4 separate regions of the Homo sapiens genome follow, and regions 2, 3 and 4 are each linked to region 1. The links come from fine-mapping of genetic effects on plasma protein levels. Region 1 holds a variant in brackets. A gene starts in each other region. All regions are shown on their reverse strands.

Region 1 (4,618 bases):
TGTTCTAACACATAACCCATCCTTCCCTTGGTGGGACAATTCCACAAGTCACAGAAAAATATTTTTCATTTTAGAATAGATTTTAAGAGAGCCTTTGCCAAGAGCCAGTTGTTTAAATTTTCAATTGAATTTTAAGCAGTATTATACATGTCCAAGAACATCATGCTATTTTTAGCTAATAGGTAGGATTGCTGTGTCCATAACCGTTTAGAGCAATCAGGAGTGAAACCACTAAATAGTATCTCTTACTGTGGTATCTTATCATTTAGCATTTCTATTTCTATTTTAATATTTTCCAAAGCCTCATCATAAAAACACCTGTAAAGCACCCATGCTGGGCACAATACAAAGTTCAAATAGAAAGACACAGTTCCTATACTTCATTATGGGTTAAACCCACATTAAGCAAACCAGGTATTTGAAAGAATCTTGGCTGGGCATTATGGCTCACGCCTGTAATCCCAGTGCTTTGGGAGGTCGAGGTGGGAGGATCACTTGGGCCAGGAGTTCGAGGCCAGCCTGGGCAATATAGTGAGACCCTGTTTCTACAAATAAATTAACAAATAAAAAAAGAATCTCACAGTTAGAGCATTCTCAAGTTGCCACCAGCCTCTAAGTATCCAGAGGAGGAACATTAGGAAGCAATTGTCCTAAACCCATCATCTTTCTAATGCTTGCACACCTTTTATGTATTAAAAGAAGAGGGGTAAGGAAAATGTTCTAGGCCGGGAGCGGTGATCCCAGCACTTTGAGAGGCCAAGGTGGGTGGACTGCTTGAGCTCAGGAGTTCAAGACCAGCCTAGGCAACATGGCAAACCCCTATCTCTACTAAAAATACAAAAATTAGGCTGGGCATGGTGGCTCACACCTGTAATCCCAGCACTTTGGGAGGCCAAGGCAGGAAGAATGCTTGAGCCCAGGAGTTCAAGACCAGCCTGGGCAACATGGTGAAACCCCATCTCTACAAAAAATACAAAAATTAGCCAGGTGTATTGGTGCACACCTATAGTCCCAGCTACTCAGGAGGCTGAGGTGGGAGGATGGCTTGAGCTTGAGGGGCAGAGGTTGCAGTGAGCCGAGATCGTGCTACTGCACTCCAGCCTGGGCAACAGAGCCTGACACTGTCTCACACACACACACAAAAAGTTTTAGGCCGGGCACAGTGGCTCACTCCTGTAATCCCAGCACTTTGGGAGGCCGAGGCGGGCGGATCACAAGGTCAGGAGATTGAGACCATCCTGGCTAACATGGTGAAACCCCGTCTCTACTAAAAATACAAAAAATTAGCCGGGCGTGGTGGCGAGCACCTGTAGTCCCAGCTACTGGGGAGGCTGAGGCAGGAGAATCGCTTGAACTTGGGAGGCAGAGCTTGCAGTGAGCCGAGATCGTGCCACTGCACTCCAGCCTGGGCGACAGAGCAAGACTCCGTCTCAAAAAAAAAAAAAAAGTCCTAAAACGTACTGTGGTGATGGAGGCACAACTATACCTAAAGTCACTGAAATATATATCTAAATGAGGAAACTGTATGGTAAATGACTTACCTCTCAATAACACCATTTTAAAAAGGAGACAAATTGTCTTACTCTGATTGTTCTATTAGTCAAACCTATTTTTTAAATCTCTCATGCTAAAGGCTGCACTGGTTTGGCAAAGGTGCCTCAGAGGCCACCATGGAGATCACTCTAACCTTCCCCTCCACATCCATCTTTCTTTCCCTTACACTCTTCCTAGTCTGTCCTCTGTTAATTCCCCAGTATCCTTCCTGTTGCTCCTCCACTTTTAACTAGGTGTTAGGTCCCTCAGGTGTTCACAAGCATGGTCTGTCCCAACTGGTAGACCTCAGGATTAAGCTGATTTGCTGACCCTCTGATGCTGACCTTCAGCAACTTTCCCTTCTTAGACAAGTTATATCTTGGCTCTCTTGTCATTGTTTCAGTATGCACAATGAAGAATTGGACCACTTGATCCTTTCCAGCTCTCACATTCACGTGAAGAAAAAAAAATTCAAGTAATGAACACTTACTTGGCCAATCACATGCAAGGTCTCTTGCCAACCAACATACATGTATTTGGATTATTCATTTTGTAAATACCCACCGTGATGTAATCCTCTGAAGAACCACACTTGTTTATAAATTGATCAACATGGAGTCCTTATTTTTAAAAACTAGCACTTTACCAAAGAAAATTTAGAGCCCAACACAGAATGCTTGACAGTCCCTCTGGACCAGTCTCCAGGGATCTGTTTTCAAAAGGGGAAAAAAAAAAA[AG/G]CTTTTGCATGTTGGGGACTTGCTGGATTTACCAAACCAAAGGAGGAAGTAAGATTGATTGGGGTGGCAGAGCCTTAACAACAGTGGTTCACCTAAATCCTAAGAGAAGAAAGGCCTTATTTGGCAAGTAGTAGAAAGAACTAGCATAAAACAGCACCTCAACCTACATTATAAACTCTCAGAAATATGCTCAGAGAGCAATAAACACTGCAGGAATCCCCTTACCCTGGACAACCTGCAGCTTTTTATGCAAGCCAGTTGCATTCCCCTAACAAGTCATAGAAATATGTAGTCACTAGTATCCAGCATACCCCCACCACACACAATTCACAGTATTGTTTCCATGTGCCCAACATCAGAGAGCAAAACCGAAAGAAACATCAATTTCTCCTACAACATACACACACAAATACGCAAGAAAAACCATTTCCTTTGCAGAACCTGTGTTGTCTAAGTTGTGGGCATGAAATGCACAAATATTAGTTGCTAATAAAAATCAGACGGTTAGCTCTGTACTGGAAAGCGAACAGCACACACATAAATCATAAAAAAACAATATCCCTAAGGTGCGTTCCTGATCAGTAAGCTGAAAACCAAACAAGGAGAGAAATGACTCAAAGTGTCCATTTGCATCCCTCTTTCTCATTACCTCAGACCAACAAGCTCTCTCTCCTGTGAGTTACCTCCCTGCACTTCTGTCCTCGATCAGAAGAGCCTCGTGGAAAAGGTCGCAGGCTCTCTCTTCTTTCCCTTCAGGATCTTGAGGCACTGAAGGAGCATGGGGGGAGGGGAACGGAAAGGACAAAGGTAGGCGCTTTCCATCCCTTTCGGCTTGGCGACGGGGCTCCCAGCCTCTCCCCCTCTCATCGCGGAAATAGAGCACCTGCCAGGGAGAGGTCGGTCCCTTCCACCTTAGTAATCGGCCCACAGGGCCTAGGTGTCCCAGGAGCCCAGGCGCTGCAGCCCTAGGGGACAAAGGGGAGGAGGAGGCGAAAGAAGTCGGGAATGGTACGAATCCCTTGCAAACAAAAGGGAGGGGGCAGAATACCAAGCCGGTCGCGGCTGTTCTCAGAGGTGGACAGGTTGGGTGGAGAAATGGGTGTCGGGGGAGGGGAAGATTTAGAAAATTCCTCTAGGGCAAGGGATTAGGGAGCTGCTTGGGGGCGCAGCAGCCAGCAGGAAGGGGGCTGAGGCAGGACAGAGGCCCTGGGGTGAGAAGGGGGCACAGCTCGCTGTGGGGGAGAGGTGATGGCTAAGAGGTGAAGGCCAGACTGGGCCCAGTGTAGGGTGAGGGGGCGCTGAGCCCCGCGCGGCGCTCCGAGGGGCCCTGAGGAGGGTCTCAGAAGGAGCCTGGGGGCACGCAACGAAGGCATTCGAGGGAGAGGGCAGAATTGGGGCACGCAGTGTTGGAAAAGAGGCTGAGAACAGAGCCGTAGAGAGGTTAGGGGGGACTGCGAGGGGGCCTGACCCCCGTCCGCCCCACCTCACCTGGCGCCGGGTCGGAGTCCAGATCTAGTGCTGAGAAAGCGCCAGCTCCGGCCAGTCCCTCCGTCCCGCGCGGGAGACCACGGACACAAAGCGGGGCGCGCGGGAGGAGGGGAGGAGAGAGGAGGGGGAAGGAGGGAGGAGGAGGAGACGCCTGAGGCGCGCGATGGGGGGAAGGAGGGGCGCCTGCCGCCCTCCTCCTGGGTCAGGGGGCGGGGCATGCGGCTGGAGGCCGCCCTCAGCCGGCCAATGGCCACTCCACTGGCCCGCAGGCTAGGGCGCGCCTTCCCGCGGCTCACCTCGGCACCTGGGCCTCGGTTGGCCCCAGCCAATCAAACGCCTTTATTTGCATGACCAGCCCCGCCCATTCGCCCCAGCCAAGGACTGCTCACTGAGAATACAAAGAAGGCCCCCCGGAGGGGAGGGAGTCGACTCCAGTTGGCCTATCCCAAGGGCATAGTATCACCTTTTCAGCGCGTTTATGGGTCTTTCACGGTCATCTTGATGAGGGGAGGGGAGTGGGGGTCACAGAGGTTTGGCCCAAGATCTCTTAAGAGGTCGGATCTCTTCTACCTGAGGTCCTTCTAACCAAGAGCTGCTCTCCTCTTCCAGGGCACACAGTTCCCAGTCTTCTCCTGTGGGCCCTCCGCCCCCTCCCCTTTTTCCAGTCGCCCTAATCTTTGGATGCTGCTTCCAGTAGGCTGCTGCCCACTACTGGCCTTCTCCTGCACTGCAGCCCACATCAGCAGGCTCTGAGCACAGCCTTAATTGATGCTTTCAAGCCGCCCAAACCAACCCCTACCCAGCAGGAAAAGGAGAGAGGAAGAGGTTACTGCTCTAGGTAGAAGGGACCTGGTCAAGTG
Region 2 (4,574 bases), not on the chromosome of region 1:
GATTACAGCATACAGGCTAAATGTCTACATACAAAACAATCAATAAAACTTTTTGTTTCAGCTAAACTTAGAAATAAATCATTGTCCTATTTAGTGTCAGTAGGTTCTACAGTAATTAGTACATCAATCATTTGAGGAACTCGTAATAAAATACTTTACTCAGAGATAGAATGTCACCATCAAGTCACGAAACCTTTCCAGGGCGAGTTAATTTGGAAGTCTGCTTACTTCTAAAGTAAACTGTCAAATGTGGTCTGTAGGTTATCGCATTTAAAAACAGGACCTGAGAACTTGAGTAGACATAGTAGATAACTATTAAACAATAGGGAAAATTGGCTTGAAAACAAAAACATGATTTAAAAAATTACTATATTCATCTTTTTGATAGAGAGTAATTTTGAACATTTAGTATTTTAAGCATTTCTTCTAAAATTTAAGGATATGAAAAGTAAGAAAAGAATATGGAAAATTTAAATAATATTCTGTGAGACTTATACATAGTTGTAAAAGGAAGAAAACTTGTTGCCAGTGCCACTTACATCTGCCTCTTCTTTATTGACAATCTTCCAAATAAATTTAAATAGCATAGTTGCTTTGGGTCCTGTCGAGTTTGGCCTGGAATTGTAGGTGATTAGAAAGGATAGGGAAGCTTTCATGTGATACGTATTCATTGATTTATTAATTATTTAAGACCTACTTTATATTGAAGTATCCTACATGTTATAGGATACATGAGACATTCAAACAAACACAGGACATGCCACTCCCTACAAAAGTGCATGGTTCAATTGAGGAAGGAAGTCTTACAGATGGGACAGAGAACCAGAAAATAACATAAAGCCAACATGTAATGTGTAGGTCCACCTCTCTATCTTTGTAGGGATATAGCATTTCAGACCAAAACCTTTAATTTGGGTCTGAGAATTCAGGAACAAATATTTTCCTTGGTAAGGACATTTCTTGCACAATTTCTAATAGTGCAAAATTGGAAACACCGTGAAGGGCACCAACAAGGCAAGGTTGAGTAACTATTGTTCTTATCACAGGACGTCACATGGTCATTAAGAAGAATGGGGGAAAACTACATTAAGATGACCTGAAAAGATAAGGAACACATATTTTTTGAAGGATAAAAGTCAGCTGTATAGTGATCCATATACAATACTTCTATGTATATGTGTACCTCTATGTCTTAAACGTGTCTCATTGTATACATATACATGTGTGCATATAAGTGCAGACAGAATTGAAAACTAATGCAAAATTGTTACCAGTGTTTACCACTGAATAGTAGGAATGTGGAGAAATGATGAAGAGAAATTTGTGTTTTATTTCAAAGACATCTGCAGCATACGAATCTTTTGCAATAAATTATATAATTTTTCTGTTAAATTAAAAATAAAAAGAAAAATAAATATGCTGGGTCCTACTTTTTAGGTATTCTTAGGTGGTAGAAACAAGTAGCTTCTTTTGTAATATAAAGGAGGATGAGTTTCATTTGTAGTTTCTAGATGAAATTACAAAAGATAATATAGATTGAAGGCAGAAAGAATCCAATAAGCTAAAATCCAAAGACAACCTTTGACGGTAATTGGCTCTTATTTTACTTACATGCTCCAAACCAATCCCAATATTTATCAACATTCATGAAAAGAACATTTGCTTTCTTTGGCAAGCAAAGATAACTTTCTCTTTCAAGGGCCACATGTTTGTGCCTTCAGGTGCTCCTAAAGTTTCTATTAAGCCTAAAAACTGCAGTATAGAAAAGGCAGGGCGTATTGTTATAAATCATACAAAGAAAATGCATGTAGTATTTCAGTCTAGTTCTTACCTTCCTGAACGGAGTTCTTACACAGGTGTAAGGAAGATAAGTATTGAGAAAGGGAGAGTGGGAATGTGAAGTGATGCACATTAAGCAAGTTAGTAGGAATTTGACCTGTCTGGTCTTTCTCTGGGTTGGGCACAGCTTCAAATGCTTATGTGTGTATCACCACATACCCTCACTTCCTCCTTTCCTACCTCTTCCTTCTTACTGGCTTTGAGAAAGAGCATATAAATGACATCTTCAGGGCATGAGAAGCCACTTATCTGCAGACTTGTAGGCAGCAACTCACCCTCACTCAGAGGTCTTCTGGTTCTGGAAACAACTCTAGCTCAGCCTTCTCCACCATGAGCCTCAGACTTGATACCACCCCTTCCTGTAACAGTGCGAGACCACTTCATGCCTTGCAGGTGCTGCTGCTTCTGTCATTGCTGCTGACTGCTCTGGCTTCCTCCACCAAAGGACAAACTAAGAGAAACTTGGCGAAAGGCAAAGGTAGAGGCCCTGCTTCTCTGCACTTGTTGCTGCTTCTGCTACACCTGTCTCTGGGGTAAAGACTAGCTTGGTGCCTTTGGGGCTGGAGAGGGCCATTATACCAATAACTCCAATTGGAGGAGACACACAGGGGGGTCACTTCTCACTTCTTGTGTGCTGGGCAATCTTCTGGGCACTTTACTAAAGCGTTACAGATCATATTCACAATGGCTTTATGAGAGAGGTACAATTGCCCTCAATCTGCAAATAAGAGACCTGAGGAAAATATTCATGACCACCAATAGGTCACATTTTCTACCCTAGAGGAAAGTCTAGACAGTGACTTGTATGCTGAACTCCGCTGCATGTGTATAAAGACAACCTCTGGAATTCATCCCAAAAACATCCAAAGTTTGGAAGTGATCGGGAAAGGAACCCATTGCAACCAAGTCGAAGTGATGTAAGTTGCTGTTTCTGTGCTATTGCCTTATCAGAGAAACCCTCTACCTCCATCCACATATGCACTCGTTTCCTCCAGTCTCATGGATTAGTTCTGATATTCAGATCAGGACACCCACAGATAACCCTGTTCTCTTTTGCAGAGCCACACTGAAGGATGGGAGGAAAATCTGCCTGGACCCAGATGCTCCCAGAATCAAGAAAATTGTACAGAAAAAATTGGCAGGTGATGAATCTGCTGATTAATTTGTTCTGTTTCTGCCAAACTTCTTTAACTCCCAGGAAGGGTAGAATTTTGAAACCTTGATTTTCTAGAGTTCTCATTTATTCAGGATACCTATTCTTACTGTATTAAAATTTGGATATGTGTTTCATTCTGTCTCAAAAATCACATTTTATTCTGAGAAGGTTGGTTAAAAGATGGCAGAAAGAAGATGAAAATAAATAAGCCTGGTTTCAACCCTCTAATTCTTGCCTAAACATTGGACTGTACTTTGCATTTTTTTCTTTAAAAATTTCTATTCTAACACAACTTGGTTGATTTTTCCTGGTCTACTTTATGGTTATTAGACATACTCATGGGTATTATTAGATTTCATAATGGTCAATGATAATAGGAATTACATGGAGCCCAACAGAGAATATTTGCTCAATACATTTTTGTTAATATATTTAGGAACTTAATGGAGTCTCTCAGTGTCTTAGTCCTAGGATGTCTTATTTAAAATACTCCCTGAAAGTTTATTCTGATGTTTATTTTAGCCATCAAACACTAAAATAATAAATTGGTGAATATGAATCTTATAAACTGTGGTTAGCTGGTTTAAAGTGAATATATTTGCCACTAGTAGAACAAAAATAGATGATGAAAATGAATTAACATATCTACATAGTTATAATTCTATCATTAGAATGAGCCTTATAAATAAGTACAATATAGGACTTCAACCTTACTAGACTCCTAATTCTAAATTCTACTTTTTTCATCAACAGAACTTTCATTCATTTTTTAAACCCTAAAACTTATACCCACACTATTCTTACAAAAATATTCACATGAAATAAAAATTTGCTATTGACTTGTTGTCATCTATTATTAATTTTAACAGGATTGTTGGGGAAAAAAAGCTTTAATTTTCCTCTCTTTTTTGTATACTTGGTATTTCACAGTTTGAACAACAAAAGTTACTAAATTGATGATCGGTGTCATTCTTAATGTAGTATGATAACAGTTCCAATTTATTAATCATTTTAATATGCCAGGAATACTAAGTGTTTTCCATGCATGAACTAAACAATTTTTTAAAAGATAGATATGATCTGGTTAAAAGAACATCCTCTGGAGTTTGAATAATGAGGTAACCTGGCTCTGCCACTTGTTAGCTGTGTATATCAGGTCATGTTGCTTAATTTCTCTGTACCTTAGGTTCTTCATCCCTAAAATGGGGATAATATTGCCTCCCTCATAGAGTTTATGGAAGGATTAAAAAAGTTAATAAATTTAAGGTATTTAAAATAATGTGTGTCATAAATAAGCCACACATAAATGTTAGTAATTATTTCTTATGATTATTATTATCCTCCCCAGTGTTACAGAAGAGAAAAATCAAGTTTATAGAGTTTAAAATACTTGCCCACTTTCAGATAACTAAGTAGGTAACAGAGTGGGAATTTCAAATTGTGCTCTTAACCACCACACCACAGTGCTTTCCTCAACTCTTCTTTCTCTAATGAAGAGATTACATTACATATAACATAGTATTATTCACACATGTAATACAACTTGATACATAAATAGCATACTGTATATACTATAATA
Region 3 (4,538 bases), not on the chromosome of region 1:
GAATTGAGTAAGATTGGGCAACGTTCATGATCTAGTAGTTTAGGATCAGTTAACATCTGTAAGTGAGAGTTTGGGTAAGAAAACTGTCATTAATAAGCAGGCTGTTTACCAGAGTCAGAATATTATTATCTTCGATATATTGTTTTGCCAGCATTTCTTGAAGCAAACACTGAATTTAAATACTGGATTGCAGTCTTATCTTTTCCAGGCTAATGTTTCCTAGAAGAAACAACTAAGTCATGTGTACATAACTGGTTCATAGTTTTACCTAAGTCATGTTCACAGCTGATCTCAATTCTTAAAGCCTATGATTTTAATATCAGAAAAAGTAGAACTTCAAATAAAAATATCAGAAGTTAAAAAAATGACATTGTATACTACCAAGAAGAAAATTAGATCAAAATGATATAGTATCCCATTATGTTAAAAAATAACAGGAAGAACTACTGTCAGAAACAGAAAAACATGTCAACAATTATAACTGGAGATTTTAACGTCATTCCCAAACAAGATTTGAACATTATAATAAGCTCAAAATTAATACCCAACAAAAATAAAGCACACACAGAATTAGTTGCAATGATCAGCCATGTCCAGGACTACAAAGAAAGCCTGAATGCATTTCTAAAAGCAACATCATTTATAGCAAAAATTAAATATAATAAAATTAGAAATTGATAAAAATCATATATCCCTAAACTAAGAAAACACAAATAATTTGGGGGTTAAAAATATAAACAAATTAAGATATATTTGCAACTGTTTGCCAAAGGAAGCACTACGTATCAAAATTGAGAAATACAAGTAAAGCAGAATTTAGACAAAACTTGTATTTTATTGATCGACTGATTGATTGCAGAGATGGGGTCTTGCTGTGTTGCCCAGGCTGGTCTCAAAGTAACTTCAAGTGATCCTCCTTCCTCAGCCTCCCCAAATGCTGGGATTACAGATGTGAGCCACCACACATGGCCCGAAACTTGTATTTTTAAACTAAAAAGAAGAAAAATGAACTAAGCATTCAGCTAAAAAAGCTTGAAATGAAGCAACAAAGTAAAACTAACAAAGCAAGAAGGTAGGGAATAACAAATGAGAAATAAAGTAGATGGTCAGAATGGATATTAGAGAATGTACAATGGATATATTATCATCATTATTTTGCCATCCAAAACTATCATCTCCCATATCTACTTGGGAGGCTGAGGCAGGAGAATAGCTTGAACCCAGGGGTTGCAGTGAGCTGACATGGTGCCACTGTACTCTAACTGCACTCCAGCATGGGAGACAGAGCGAGACTCCATCTCAAACAAACAAACACACACACACACACACACACACACACACACACAGACACAAAACACAAAGAACAAAACCTATCATCAAAGAAAACAAAAACTCAATATGTAAAAGAGGTGTTATTCTGGCTGGGGCCCTGCTACCTCTCTTTCTCCACTGACTGAGCAATGCTTTTTGAATAACCAGATTTAGAAGACCTGTTGTAAAATAGGTCTTGCATGAAGCTAGTGATGAACTCACAAACCAGTGAAAAGGACTTTCTCAACCTTTAAAATCTGCTAGTGGCAAAAAGTGTTTCCAGGGGGTAAGGAAGAAAAAAAACCAAAAAGTCCTGAGCAACTATTCGTTTTTACCTTAAGACATTCTGTGTGTGTGTGTGTGTGTGTGTGTGTGTGTGTGTGTGTGTGTGTGTGTGTGTGTGTGTGTTTTAAGTAGAGACGGGGTTTCACCAACGTTTGAAAATATTTATCATGGTCTCCCTAAGATGGACGGTGTTAGCTAGGATGGTCTCGATCTCCTGACCTCATGATCCACCCGCCTCGGCCTCCCAAAGTGCTGGGATTACAGGCGTGAGCCACCGTGCCCGACCAACCTTAAGACAAACAACTACTGCATGATTGTTTTTGGAGACCTTTTTTTTATTCAAATAAACTTTTTGCCAGCATTTTCTGACTCAAAGTATAGCAGCAGGAAGATAACACTTTTGTGAGAAAAAAGTTTGAATACAGCTTACTGCTGTATTTAAATGAAACAGTAGTTAATATGATATTAATATATTTTGGATATATTTTGAGTTTGTTGATTTTCCAGTCTTCACCCGCTGCTAGGCCTGTGGGTGTTGGAAATGCCTGTGGTTCTCAATTTTGTTTGCCTATTAGAATCCTGATGTCCAAGCCTTACTCCAGTTAGACCAGTTAAGCCAGAAAGGCAGAAGGTGTACTCAAGCATCTGTTTTTTCAAAATCTCCTTTTGTGATGCCAAGTGCAATCAAAGTTTAGAATCATTGTAATAGCAAATGGTTGAATGGAAACTCCACCTTCTATTCAAATCCTACCCCAGTCTGCCCTTAGCTGTTCCCTTTTCACAGATCTATCAATGTCTGAAGATAACTATGGCAGGCTGATCAAATATGCATAGAGCAGGAAGACAGCAAGAGAGTGATACACTGACCATGTTCCAAATCACAAAACATCTCAACAGGCTAGATCATGGACCGAGTCTGATGGGATGGAATTTCATAAAGATACATAAAAAAGCATCTTGGATACAGTAAACTTAACTCCACAAATACAGGGGAATTTAGACGTGACTAAGTAGCAGTACATATGAAAAATTATTGAGGAATTTTGTTGACTTTAAGGGTAGTGTGAGTCAACACTGTGATTTGGCTGCCAGAAAATAAACTCAATCCAAGGCTGTATCAACAAAGGCATACTGTCCATTCTGCATGCTCATTACAGCACTAAGTACCGAGCCATGTTCTCAACCGCATACTTCATGAACATGGAAAGCTAACAGTATGGTTAAGGGGGGAAACTGGAACTGTCATCTTGGGGAATAAAAGGGATATTTAGCCAGGAGTAAAGTTAGCTTAGGGAGACCATGATAAATATTTTCAAAATATTTGAAGGACTCAGTTGTGGAAGTGAGATTAGATTTATTGTGTAAAACTCCAGGAGTCAAAAGCAATAGAGAGATAGAAGGAAATGCTTTTCAGCAGTGTTGCTCATCAATAAAGGGAGTGAACAGCCACACAGAATGGAAGGTTCCCTGTCCTTTGAGATATTTAAGCCTTCAAGTAAATTATGGGTGAGGAGTTTCAAATCTAGAGTTGAACCAGATAAGAAAGTCTCTTCTTCCGGTAAGATATTATGGACCTATAACATCTGTGTACTTAAAAGTAGATTGGGAGTGAAAGGCAGACTTTTGATGTTCTGTACACTGTTGAAACCCCTTAGCGTGGTCCTCTGTAACCTGCTCACCCTGCCCCAAGGAGGCAGCTAGCCAATGCCACCAGCCCAACGGAAACCCCAGTGCTTTTCCAATGGGGAAATGCAGTCACTTTTCTTTGGATGCTACACATCCTTTCTGGAATATGTCTCACACACATCTCTCTTTATCACCCCCTTTTTCAAGTAAACCAACTTCTTGCAGAAGCTGACAATGTGTCTCTTTACTCTCCACGAAGATTCTGGCCCTTCTCTTCACCTGTCAGAAGTTTAGGATTCCAAAGGGATCATTAGCATCCATCCCAACAGCCTGCACTGCATCCTGAGAACTGCGGTTCTTGGATCATCAGGCAACTTTCAACTACACAGACCAAGGGAGAGAGGGGACCCCTCCGAGGTCCCATAGGGTTCTCTGACATAGTGATGACCTTTTCTTGGAACTTTTACAACCCCCAGGACATTTCCAAACTTTGAGCAGGGCTCTGGGGGCCAGGCGTGCGGGAGGGAGGACAAGAACTCGGGAGTGGCCGAGGATAAAGCGGGGGCTCCCTCCACCCCACGGTGCCCAGTTTCTCCCCGCTGCACGTGGTCCAGGGTGGTCGCATCACCTCTAAAGCCGGTCCCGCCAACCGCCAGCCCCGGGACTGAACTTGCCCCTCCGGCCGCCCGCTCCCCGCAGGGGACAGGGGCGGGGAGGGAGAGATCCAGAGGGGGGCCGGGGGAGGTGGGGCCGCCGGGGAGGAGGCGAGGGAAACGGGGAGCTCCAGGGAGACGGCTTCCGAGGGAGAGTGAGAGGGGAGGGCAGCCCGGGCTCGGCACGCTCCCTCCCTCGGCCGCTTTCTCTCACATAAGCGCAGGCAGAGGGCGCGTCAGTCATGCCCTGCCCCTGCGCCCGCCGCCGCCGCCGCCGCCGCTCAGCCCGGCGCGCTCTGGAGGATCCTGCGCCGCGGCGCTCCCGGGCCCCGCCGCCGCCAGCCGCCCCGCCGCCCTCCTCCCGCCCCCGGCACCGCCGCCAGCGCCCCCGCCGCAGCGCCCGCGGCCCGGCTCCTCTCACTTCGGGGAAGGGGAGGGAGGAGGGGGACGAGGGCTCTGGCGGGTTTGGAGGGGCTGAACATCGCGGGGTGTTCTGGTGTCCCCCGCCCCGCCTCTCCAAAAAGCTACACCGACGCGGACCGCGGCGGCGTCCTCCCTCGCCCTCGCTTCACCTCGCGGGCTCCGAATGCGGGGAGCTCGGATGTCCGGTTTCCTGTGAGGCTTTTACCTGACACCCGCCGCCTTTCCCCGGCACTGGCTGGG
Region 4 (4,618 bases), not on the chromosome of region 1:
GCAGTGGCGCAATCTCAGCTCACCACAACTTCCGCCTCCAAGGTTCAAACGATTCTCCTGCCTCAGCCTCTGGAGTAACTGGGATTACAGGCATGCACCACCATGCCCAGCTCATTTTGTATTTTTAGTAGAGATGGGGTTTCTCCGTGTTGGCTAGGCTGGTCTCAAACCTCAGGTGACCCGCTCGCCTCAGCCTCCCAAAGTGCTGGGATTACAGGTGTGAGCCACCGCGCCCAGCTATTATTTCTTATAATTTAGAAAAATTAACAGGTTTTATTATATATTTTTCATTCCCTCCAACAGAGAAGTTACCATATGATCCTGTCTGCCCTTACCTCTGTTTGGGCCAGAATTGGTGGCCTGGTATTGCCAATAGGTTCTATGTTGGGGACAGCTTCTGCCCAGCTCTGTTATTAGGACTGGGAGCATGAGCTTCATCTGCCCATGCTGAAGATCACACGTGTGATTTTTTGTGTGTGGGAACAGCAGGTAGTTAATACCACAAATACATCTTGCCAGGTTAAATCAAAGGCAACAGTTAAAGTCTGAAATTCTTGAATGAACTTAGAGGGATCCTGACTAAATGAACCCAACTTGGATTGAATTTGCAAAAGATCAGACATGATCAGAAAAGGGACATGAACTTGGCTTGTTCCCAAATCTTCATTAGCCACCTTAGGGAGAGGCAAAATATTTTGGGGATTTTTCTGAGGACTCTGTACTAGTAGCATATGTGACTCCCCTGAGAGTATGTGAAGGGGAGAAAGTATTTGGGTATGTGGGTGGGAGATTGACTAGGGAATGGAGCAGATGGAGAGGGTGTAGGTGAAGAGTGAGCAGGTTGAGGAGGATGTAATAGGCAAAAGGAAGGATCATCTAAGACATCAGAACCGGGAAGGGAGGACGTTCCTTGGAAGCATACATGACAATTTGTATGTAATTTTGGGTTTGGATTTGGGGATAAAGCAAAAAAGACCTGAACATATGGGACTTCTGAATCCTTTCCAAGGTTCCGGCAAAAAATCAGTTAAGTTGTAAAGTAGCATTGCAATCCCAAGTTTCATTAATTGGCCAAATTGATTGATTAGGGAGCTTGTATTGAACCCAAGCAATATTAGAAAAAAGGATATGCTTTTTAAACTCTTATTTATTTTTTATTTGTATTTTTTGAGACAGAGTCTTGCTGTGTCGCCCAGGCTGGAGTGCTGTGGCGCCATCTTGGCCCACTGCAACCTCCGCCCCCGGGGTACAAGTGATTCTCCTGCCTCAGCCTCCCTAGTAGCTGGGATTATATGTGCCCGCCACATATAATTAGCCCCCTGGCTGATTTTTTTTTTTTTTTTGTATTTTTAGTAGAGACAGGGTTTCGCCATGTTGGCCAGGCTGATCTCGAACTCCTGACCTCAGGTGATCCACTCGCCTCGGCCTCCCAAAGTGCTAGGATTACAGGTGTGAGTCACTGTGCCCGGCCAAGTTTTGCATTTTTAGTAGACTCCCGGTCTTTAACTCCGGACCTCAGGTGATCTGCCTGCCTTGGCCTCCCAAAGTGCTGGGGTTACAGGCATAAGCCATTGTGCTCAGCCTTATATGCTTATTTTTAAGAGTTTGTGGGTCAAAATGAGACCAATGGGACCATTTTTAAGGAGGCAATCCAAGGGCGAGTTGGATGGAACTGAATTAATTGAACCGAAGTTGGGTTTAGACAAGGAACTACAAGATCCCTGAGGCATCCCTGTGTAGAATTGAGATCCACCGCTTCCAGGACAAGGCTTATGGAGTGTTAAAATGAAAGTGCCCTGCCACTCTGACAGGCAATAGCTCTTTTGTCTTGGCCTTGGGGTAATACCGGGGGATGGCGCTTGGCCAGAAACTGTCAGTTGCCAACGAGAACTCAAGCTGGTTCACTGGCAGTCCGAAAACAGAAAAGAGCCCTGGCCAGTCCCTCACCCCTAAGGGCAAGGACAGCCAGGTATCCCTTCTCTAGGGCTTCAGGATCCCACAGAAGAGCTGCCTCCACCGGGACCGGCAGTTCCCCAAAGAGTAAAGAACCAGACCGTGGAAGGAAGCAGAGAGAAAAAGGAAGAGGGAAATCCCAGTGAAGTCCCCGTATGGGCCACCAAGATGCCAGGCGAGGTGTCAGAGCTCCGGAACCGGGAAGTGGTTGGCTCCCGGGTGGTAAAAGAACTTATCAACAACCGTGTAGGTCTGAAAAGGAAAGTTTTATTAGACGGAAAGGACGAGGCAGCAGAGCGCAGTAGGCGCTTCAGCAAGAGAGGACTGAGCTCCCTGCGGGGAACTGCAGGGTAATTTGGACCACATTAGTCACTTAGGTCATGGTAAATGGTTACATTTGTCGATATTTTGGTGCCTTGATGTCAGCAAAGTTTGCACAATGGGTCTTAACGTGCACTCATTCCGGAAACGTACAGAAATTCTAGTTACTTATAAATTCTTGGGACGGAAGCTTGGTACCAGATGTGGCTTTAGACAATAGGGAAGTGTCATTCTGAATTGCTCAGATAAGGGGCTTTGCCTCCTGTTGGTCGACTTGATGGCCACCAGGTGATCTCTGGTCTCTTCAGTGTGGCTTTGCAGACTATAAAGGCGCAGCGCGCCAACGAGGCGGGTTGGCCCCAGACGGCGGAGAGGAAGGGCAGAGTCGGCGGTCCTGAGACTTGGGGCGGCCCCTTGGAGGTCAGCCCCGCTCGCTCCTCCCGGCCCTCTCCTCCTCTCCGAGGTCCGAGGCGGGCAGCGGGCTGTGGGCGGGCAGGAGGCTGCGGAGGGGCGGGGGGCAGGAAGGGGCGGGGGGCTCGGCGCACTCGGCAGGAAGAGACCGACCCGCCACCCGCCGTAGCCCGCGCGCCCCTGGCACTCAATCCCCGCCATGTGGGGGCTCCTGCTCGCCCTGGCCGCCTTCGCGCCGGCCGTCGGCCCGGCTCTGGGGGCGCCCAGGAACTCGGTGCTGGGCCTCGCGCAGCCCGGGACCACCAAGGTCCCAGGCTCGACCCCGGCCCTGCATAGCAGCCCGGCACAGCCGCCGGCGGAGACAGCTAACGGTGAGTTCCCCGACCGACGGTCCGCTCCCCCGCAAGCCGACTGCCCGGCTCTCCTGCCCCGTGGGGCGATCCCTCCCTAACACGCGGGCACACGCACACCCACGCACACTCACAGTCATGCACACTCACCCCGCACGCACACTCGCACTCACGCGCACACACGCGCGCGCACTCACACACATTCACACACGCGCACACTTGCACTCACACGCGCGCGCATTCACACGCATGCACACACACGCACACTCACACGCGCGTGCGCGCACACACAGTGCACGCGCGCGCACACTCACACTCACAGTGCACACACACATATACACACTCACACTCCCTCAACTCCCTGCTGGGAGCAATGGCTGCTGACTCGGCAGCCCCAGTTCCCTGCCAGACCTAGTCAGCAGTCCCAGGACAGGCGCCAGTGGGATGCTGCCTCTTCCAAGCCCCAAACCTTCCCTTTTCACCAAAGACAAAACAGGCCAGAACTGGCAGGAGGGGAGACAGAGGGGCAGAAGCTCTCAAGGTGCAGAGCAAGACTGCGTAGGAGAGAGTTTGAAGGCGAGGGCTGGAGAGAAAGAACAAAAGGAAAGAAGGGAGAGCCCCTCGCTGAGGCTGCCGGGAGGATGGGGCAGAGCGGGAGAGGAAGGCAGCCCGACCTCCCAGCTTTCCAGATGTGGAATAGGAGAGGAGGAGCGCAAGCGGAGGGCACTCAGGGGCTTCTAGAGGAGGCAAGTGGAGGAGGGTCTTGAAGGGTGATGTCCCCGAGTCAGGGGAGTCTGGAGAGAGAGAGAGAGAGAGGGCTGCCAAGAAGGAAGCGGCGGGCAAAGGCACAGGGGCACCAGATGCGGAAATGGGCAGCCTGTTCTGGAGGCAGCTGTGGAGCTTCGATGGGTACCCCCAGCACCTGCCTGGGCAGAGCCTTGTGCTGAAGGGCCGGCGGGCAGGCCCAGCCCTGAAAGCCTCGACACCCAGGCAGACATGGATTCCAGGACAGGCCATCTGAGCCCAGAGAGCAGACACAACAATGGAAGCGGCACAGGGGTTTTGGGGCATGATGCTGAGTCTGGAGCTAAGAAAGCCTCCTTGGAAAGGCATCTGGGCTGAGATGCAAAGGAAGAATGGGAATTAGGTGAAAAAATCAGAGGCGAGGGGTAGCATTACAGGGGAGGGGATAGCTAGTGCAGAGGCCCGGAGGTAAAGTGCCAGACTCAGCTCTTTGGAGCAACCGAACAGTTTCTAGAGGCTGGGTGCAGCTCTCCATTGGATTAGAGGTTCACAGGGGAGGCTGGCCAAGCATGTAGTTACATCAGGGAGGAGAAGGAGGAGCCAAGGAAGTGACTGGAGAGGCAGGTTGGGGTCAGATTGCAGGCCTTTGATGTCCTGTGAAGGCTGTTAGATCCTGGTGGTGTGGCCTGCTGTGGGCTCACATGTCTTCTTGGGCTGGCAGACCTTTCCATCCGGGGTTTCACCATTCTTCCTTTCCCCCATGCTGTGCCTCTCGGACCCCAAGGGACCTCAGAACAGCATGTCCGGATTCGAGTCATCAAGAAGAAAAAGGTCATTAT

Which allele goes with the higher level. Alleles are on the strand shown, and positions count from the first base shown. The strength of an association depends on the size of the effect and on how common the allele is.
For the plasma level of the protein whose gene starts at base 2,083 in region 2, allele AG in region 1 goes with a lower level than allele G (weak association).
For the plasma level of the protein whose gene starts at base 4,118 in region 3, AG is the low allele of the variant in region 1 and G is the other (weak association).
For the plasma level of the protein whose gene starts at base 2,830 in region 4, allele G in region 1 goes with a higher level than allele AG (weak association).

What was found. A credible set is the group of variants that fine-mapping cannot tell apart. PIP is the chance, under the fine-mapping model, that this variant and not a neighbour inherited with it causes the effect. The UK Biobank Pharma Proteomics Project read protein levels with antibody pairs (Olink). The fine-mapping took linkage between variants from a reference panel, not from the people measured, so its PIPs are less certain.
Region 2: PPBP starts here. The variant in region 1 is the best candidate, but not a certain one, in a credible set for the plasma level of the PPBP protein (UK Biobank, PIP 0.52).
Region 3: VEGFC starts here. The variant in region 1 is the best candidate, but not a certain one, in a credible set for the plasma level of the VEGFC protein (UK Biobank, PIP 0.77).
Region 4: it holds the start of CPXM1, and the variant in region 1 is the best candidate, but not a certain one, in a credible set for the plasma level of the CPXM1 protein (UK Biobank, PIP 0.56).

The regions. Positions count from the first base shown.
Region 1 is chrX:70,454,404-70,459,021 of GRCh38, reverse strand. All of the region lies in intron 9 of DLG3 (discs large MAGUK scaffold protein 3), which reads right to left. DLG3-AS1 (DLG3 antisense RNA 1) reads left to right here and starts at 3,028. Exons shown (of 2, transcript NR_109801.1): 1 at 3,028-3,077. RefSeq lists silencers at 3,851-4,080, 3,818-4,244. The variant AG/G (reference allele first, on the strand shown) is at 2,270.
Region 2 is chr4:73,985,699-73,990,272 of GRCh38, reverse strand. PPBP (pro-platelet basic protein) reads left to right here and starts at 2,083. Exons shown (of 3, transcript NM_002704.3): 1 at 2,083-2,317; 2 at 2,621-2,756; 3 at 2,899-3,834. The coding sequence starts at 2,170. The coding sequence ends at 3,001. RefSeq lists an enhancer at 4,404-4,574.
Region 3 is chr4:176,792,502-176,797,039 of GRCh38, reverse strand. VEGFC (vascular endothelial growth factor C) reads left to right here and starts at 4,118. Exons shown (of 7, transcript NM_005429.5): 1 at 4,118-4,538.
Region 4 is chr20:2,798,839-2,803,456 of GRCh38, reverse strand. CPXM1 (carboxypeptidase X, M14 family member 1) reads left to right here and starts at 2,830. Exons shown (of 14, transcript NM_019609.5): 1 at 2,830-3,056; 2 at 4,564-4,618. The coding sequence starts at 2,885. RefSeq lists enhancers at 2,287-3,272, 3,273-4,260, 4,261-4,618.